Linked DNA regions of Homo sapiens: region 2 is linked to region 1. Evidence: fine-mapped QTL for protein levels in blood plasma. A gene starts in region 1. The other region holds a variant in brackets. All regions are shown on one strand. Distances are from middle to middle.

Region 1 (2,889 bases):
GGGGGTCTTAGTCTGTGGCTCCTCCATGGGGCCTCACTGAGAGGACCCTCAGTGAGAAACTTAGTCTTGGGAGTCTGAGAACCCACAGAGGGATTTCAATCCAGGACTCTTCTCTGGGGGTCTCAACCTGGATCCCCCTCTGTGTGTGGGGCCTCAGCCTGGGGTTCTCTGAGGGATCTTGGTCTGTAGCATCCTTTGTGGGATCTCATTCCAAGGGGCCTCTGTGTGTGTCTCAGATTGGGCCTCTCAGTGTTGAGCTCCCTTGATTGGTTGCCTCCCTCTTCCCCCCTCAGCATACACACTCCTGATTAGACATGGGTATGGTGGCAGCAGCCCCCAGTATTGAGAGGACTAGGACCCTGGGACCCCTGCCGAACGAGATCTGTCCAGGCAGCTCCTCTCCCTGACCAAGTGGGGGCGCTCGTGTGGCTGGCAGGGAGCCCGGGTCCAGACCTGAGGGCTCAGGGCAAGCGGCCTGATTGGGCTGTCTCTGGTCTTCAGAATCGACCACGGAAATTTGACACCTCCGGGCTTGGAAGCAGCTCTCTCCTCCTTCCCCGCTGCTTATAAACCTCAGCCCTGAGGCTCCAGCTCACTCTACCCCATCTCCTTGCCGGGTGAGTCTCATGGCTGACCCTGGAGGGAGGCTGGAGATCATTTTTTCTTCCTGGGCTCCCAGGTCCCTCCCCCAGAGCCAGCTCAGACAGGAATTCAGGAAGGAGCTTTGGATGATCGAGCAACAGCGCGTGCAGGAGTGTGTGACGGGGTGGACAGAAAAGAGAATGCCTCTTCCAGCCCCACCCGCCGCACCCCAGGGGGTTGTGAGTGCCTGTACTAAACCCGTCCTGGAGCAGGGAGTCAGAGACGCCCCGTTCCAGGACCCTTGTCACCGGGAGACAGGAGCGGGGAGGATCTGTGGGGTCCTGGGTTCAGCACTCTGCCCTGCTGCCGCTGAGGAGAGGTAAGGGTGGAGCGGGGCAGAGAAAATGGGTCTGTTCAGACGGAGCCAGCTCTGACCACAGGGGACATTTGCCAGACCCTGTGCTTCTCTGCTGGGAGGAGCGGTTAGAGTGTGTGTGGGCGGATGCGAGTGGCCGGAGACCAGGGCCCAACATAAACAAGCTTTGGAGACAAACAACCTTATGACCTGTGAGTCTGGGTGAGACAAGAAGGGATTCTTGAGACAGACACGCCACAGAGGGGCCACCAGACTTGAAGGACTCCAAGAAGGACCTTCAACTGAAGACCTCCTCTCAAGTAGAGGGGTCTCCAGATCGAGGGATCACCACAGAGGGGTCCCTAAGCCACAGACATTTAAAAAGGATCCCGGATTGTGAGACCTACAGAAGAGGGGGTTTCTGGAGCTGAATCTCCTGCCCCCACCAAAACTGAGATGCCGTTGCCTGGTCTGCTGCCCCAAGCTCAACCCCTGTCCTCTCCCTCTTTCCCCATATGCCCCCTCCAGGCTGAGACTGATGTGATAACACCAAGGCAGGGACCTTCTGAACCATTCCTGCATCTTGGGGCTCCCTGACTCTCCCTCTCTGCTCCTTCTCTCTTCCACAGGTCAGCCCTGACAAAGGTCAGCTAGCCCCTTGAGGACATCAGCTTTGGCCTCAGGGTCCTAATGGCAGCAGAACCACTGACAGAGCTAGAGGAGTCCATTGAGACCGTGGTCACCACCTTCTTCACCTTTGCAAGGCAGGAGGGCCGGAAGGATAGCCTCAGCGTCAACGAGTTCAAAGAGCTGGTTACCCAGCAGTTGCCCCATCTGCTCAAGGTAGGCAGAAGTCTGGGACTGAGATTTTGTGAGATGATGATTATGGGACACTGTGTTTAGGACGTGATGGTGCCGAGTACGGTGAGGTGACCACAAGAAAGGGTGTGGGTGGCTGCATGTGTCAATGGTTGCAGGTTTTCTTTTGTTTTTTCGAGACAAAGTCTCACTCTGTTGCCCAGGCCGGAGTGCAGTGGTGTGATCTTGGCTCACTGCAACCTCCATCTCCGGGGTTCAAGTGATTCTCCTGCCTCAGCCTCCTGAGTAGCTGGGATTACAGGTGTGTGCCACCACGCCGAGCCTATTTCTGTATTTTTAGTAGAGACAGGGTTTCACCAGGTTGGCCAGGCTGGTCTCGAACTCCTGACCTCAGGTGATCCACCCGCCTCGGCCTCCCAAAGTGCTGTGGTTACAGGCGCAAGCCACTGCGCCTGACCCGGTTGTGAGTTTTCTTGCCTGGTGTGTACATGTGTGTGTTTGTGTGTCCATGCATATAATTAGGTAAGCAAAGATACTATGTGCCAGTGGGAGTATGGTCTTGTGTCAGAAGATGCTGTTGGGTTCTTGTGTATGCTCTGTGCCTTTCTGGTCTAATTTCCCCAAGACAGGACTGGACCCAGAGCTGGCTTCCAGGAGATTCACAGACTGTCAGAGCTGGAAGGAGGCCAAGAGAAAACACAGTCCGCATTCCTCACTTCACATATATGGAAACTGAGGCCTAGCAGTGGAAAGGGGCTTATCAAAAATGAAAACACAGCCAAATTCATGGAGTCATAGACCTCAGTGTAGGGGGTCTGTGGGTGCATCTGTGAAGACTCCCTACCCGCTATGGGCATCCCCTTACTAGGGTGTAAGAGTCATTCCTTCTCTCGCACTCACAGGCTGGAGTCAGGTCTTAAATTTCATCGACTCTGGCCTCGAAGAGGCCTGGTCATTCTGGCTGTTGACAGTTTGTTTTACATCCTTTCTGAAAATCCACAGGCACGTTGAAGTGTGTGAATATGGACTCCTTGAACACAGTGAGTCTCTGAAACTCATGGTCTTTCATCTGCAAAATCCCCTACAACTTCCAACTTCTCAGACTTTTTTTTGAGACAGGGTTTCTCACTCTG
Region 2 (2,909 bases), 190 kb after region 1:
TGGAGGCTTGCTGAACCCCCAGGCCTGGGACCTCCACACAGCATAGCCCTGGTGAGATGATCTGCCCCTACCTGGGTAAGGTATTGAGCAACCAAAGCTCCCTCACTCCCTACTACAACCTGCAAACTCTCAGTCACCCTCTGGGCACAGGGCTCAGCCCCTGGCCTTGGCCTCAGACTCAAAAAGGCTTTAGATGGCTCCTTTTAGTGAGTTGCCAGCACAGAGCTTTCTCCTGCTTTGGGAGGTGATAGGGGTTTATTGTCAGATGCCCACAGGCATGAGCAAATGTCATTTTCTGGTTCTTTGGAAAGTGTGGGAAGTGGGAACTGCACTGTCCTATTTTTCAGGCTTGGGGTGCAGGCCAGCCCAGACTGAGTATTGGCTGGAGGATCTGCTTTGGGAAATCAGAACTTTTTATTTAAATAACATCCAGCCTTGGTGATTTAAAGGGTGCAGATAATTCCCAAGAGCAGACATGAAGGGACCCCCACCTCATTCCCACCCCATCCAGCAGCTTAAGAACCAGAGAGTTATTTCTGTTCTTTTTAACAGAGGCTAGCTATGGTCACCCGTGCCTCTTTCACATTCCTGTGAGGGTCTAGGAAGGGCCCCCTGTGTTCGGGACAGGGCTGTGTTTCCTGCTAACACTCATGTCCACGCTCATATGTGCACCTGGAGCCTGCATGCACCGTGTCATGCAGGGCTTGCACTTGAGTCAAGGTGGGGCCCACGGTGTCTGGTTCTTGAAGCAGCCCAGGAGGGTCAGACACCAGATCACCAAGGCCGTTGTCCTGCCCCTGTGACTCTCACCCTGGCTGTGAAGCTGGAGGAGATGGATTTGGTGCTGTTTGAGGAGTGGAGTCTGCCATGTGCTGACTGTGGCTGGGGGTCCCTGCTCAGGGTTTAGTTCTTCCACGTGTTGTTGGCCTCTATCTCTCCCTACTTCTCCCTCTCACAAGCACGGCCCATAGCTGGGCTTCTGCTTGTCTCCTCTTCTCCTGTTGCTCCCCGGCCTGTGTGAGCCCAGATCCCAGGTATGGCTCTACCCTCCTCTTTGGAAGCAATTTATCCCACCACACAGAGAAACACAGGTTTCTCTGGTCCACCTTAGCCTCGTCCTCATTTGCTCCTCAATCCCTTCTCATCTTCTTAATATCAGTCATTCACTAGAGAAGGAAAACAATCATTGTTTTTATTTCCTGAAGGCTTTTTGAAAGCAAAGATGAATATCCCTCTAGGTGAGAAAGTCATGTTGGACATAGTCGCGATGTTTCGCCAATACAGTGGAGATGATGGTAGGATGGACATGCCAGGTCTGGTGAACTTGATGAAGGAGAACTTCCCCAACTTCCTCAGTGGCTGTGTGAGTGGGGACTCTGCCCGCCCTTGGCTGGGAGAGCTTTTATATTTGTGCGGGGCAATGGAGTAGTGATTCTTGGACAG[G/A]TCCTGTGCATTGTGACATGTCTGAGGACTCATCTCTGGGAGCTGAATTCACTATTTTTATTGGGTAATTCTGAGCCTGGTATGCCTCACTGATCCATCTGTCCCAGCCTTAGGCAGGACCAGCCCCGTGGAGAGACTAACCATTCAAGAGATGGAGACTGGAACTGAGAATCAGACATGCTGGGCTCCTGTCCTGCCACTGGGCCCCCTGCCACGTTACCTGGAGAGGTTACACACACGCTCTGGCCATTTGTTTCTTCTGCCCAACGTAACCTTGTCCCTCTGTGAGAGTCACTCCTCTAGGTTCAAGTGGAGGCTTGTCAAGATGGAACTCAATGGAAATCAGAATATTGATAACATGAGCACCACCCTTTATATTTGGCAGAGCTTATTCATATACTGGGTTTTATTTCACTGTTAGAATGCATCACTCTTATTAGTAAAATATAACAAGAGAGAATAGAGCACTGGGTCCTAAAGAAAGGGAACCTGGCACTTAACAGTTTGAATGGGAAAGAAATGGAATGGGAGAAGAGTCAACATGTAAGAGAAGGAAGGCGGTCAGCCTGTGCTGGGCCCCTGGGGAGAAAGGAGACAGCGCCTGTACAGGTGGGTAGGTGGGTGGGTCTGTGGGTCTGTGGCCAATGAAGGCCCCTCACTCCTTACCAGTGTGGTTCCTGGCGGAGCCTGACACCAATCTCTGTGTTTTCCTCATGGAGTCACTCAATGGAGAACTCCTCAGGAACAACCCAGCAATGCTGCTCTCTCTCTTCCACCCACTCCTGTCCCACTTACCCACTTGTCATGTTCACACCACAGGATACCTCTTTCCTCTTTTTCCAATTCAAATATCATTTTTCTTTCTTGCGTGTTTCTCTCCATGCAGGAAAAAAGCGACATGGATTACTTGTCCAATGCCCTTGAGAAAAAAGATGATAATAAGGATAAGAAGGTTAATTATTCTGAGTTTCTTTCCTTGCTGGGGGATATAACCATAGACCACCACAAGATAATGCATGGAGTGGCACCCTGTTCCGGGGGAAGCCAGTGATCCCACCCTACCCAGGGGCCTCTGGAGACCCCCATGGACAATAAAGCATCTACTCCCACAAGATACTTCCTCCTTTTCCTTGGCCGTGTGTATCTTAGACAGAACAGGAAGTTGTTGGTTAACTGCTTTGTAGATGCTCCACTAGGTACAGAAATGCTCCCCAGCAAATGTCTGCTTCCAGAGTGCTCCCCACAGTGTCCTGAATCCTGATTTGGTCACTCTTCTTTTTTGGTTGTTGGGCTTTGAGATTCACCTGTGCTCACACACCTGGGAGGACGCATCCTACCTACCTAGCTTGGTGAGCCTAGATCAGGGTGTAAACTGGAACCCTTGCCTGGGGCCTTGCCAGAGGCCAGATAGGCACTTGCTCTCTGCACCACTCTCATGAGTAGAAAGGAGCAGCAGTGAGCACTAG

Direction of the effects. Alleles are on the strand shown, and positions count from the first base shown. The strength of an association depends on the size of the effect and on how common the allele is.
For the plasma level of the protein whose gene starts at base 595 in region 1, allele G in region 2 goes with a lower level than allele A (moderate association).

What was found. PIP is the chance, under the fine-mapping model, that this variant and not a neighbour inherited with it causes the effect. Protein levels are from antibody-based Olink assays in UK Biobank. Linkage for the fine-mapping came from a reference panel and not from the study's own genotypes, which makes the PIPs less certain.
Region 2: its variant is fine-mapped to the plasma level of the S100A13 protein (UK Biobank, PIP above 0.99).

The regions. Positions count from the first base shown.
Region 1 is chr1:153,625,211-153,628,099 of GRCh38, reverse strand. S100A13 (S100 calcium binding protein A13) reads left to right here and starts at 595. Exons shown (of 3, transcript NM_001024211.2): 1 at 595-617; 2 at 1,567-1,780. The coding sequence starts at 1,628. RefSeq lists an enhancer at 348-1,173.
Region 2 is chr1:153,436,643-153,439,551 of GRCh38, reverse strand. It overlaps the pseudogene S100A7L2. Among named protein-coding and RNA genes, the nearest start is that of S100A7A, 22 kb to the right of the region's middle. The variant G/A (reference allele first, on the strand shown) is at 1,444.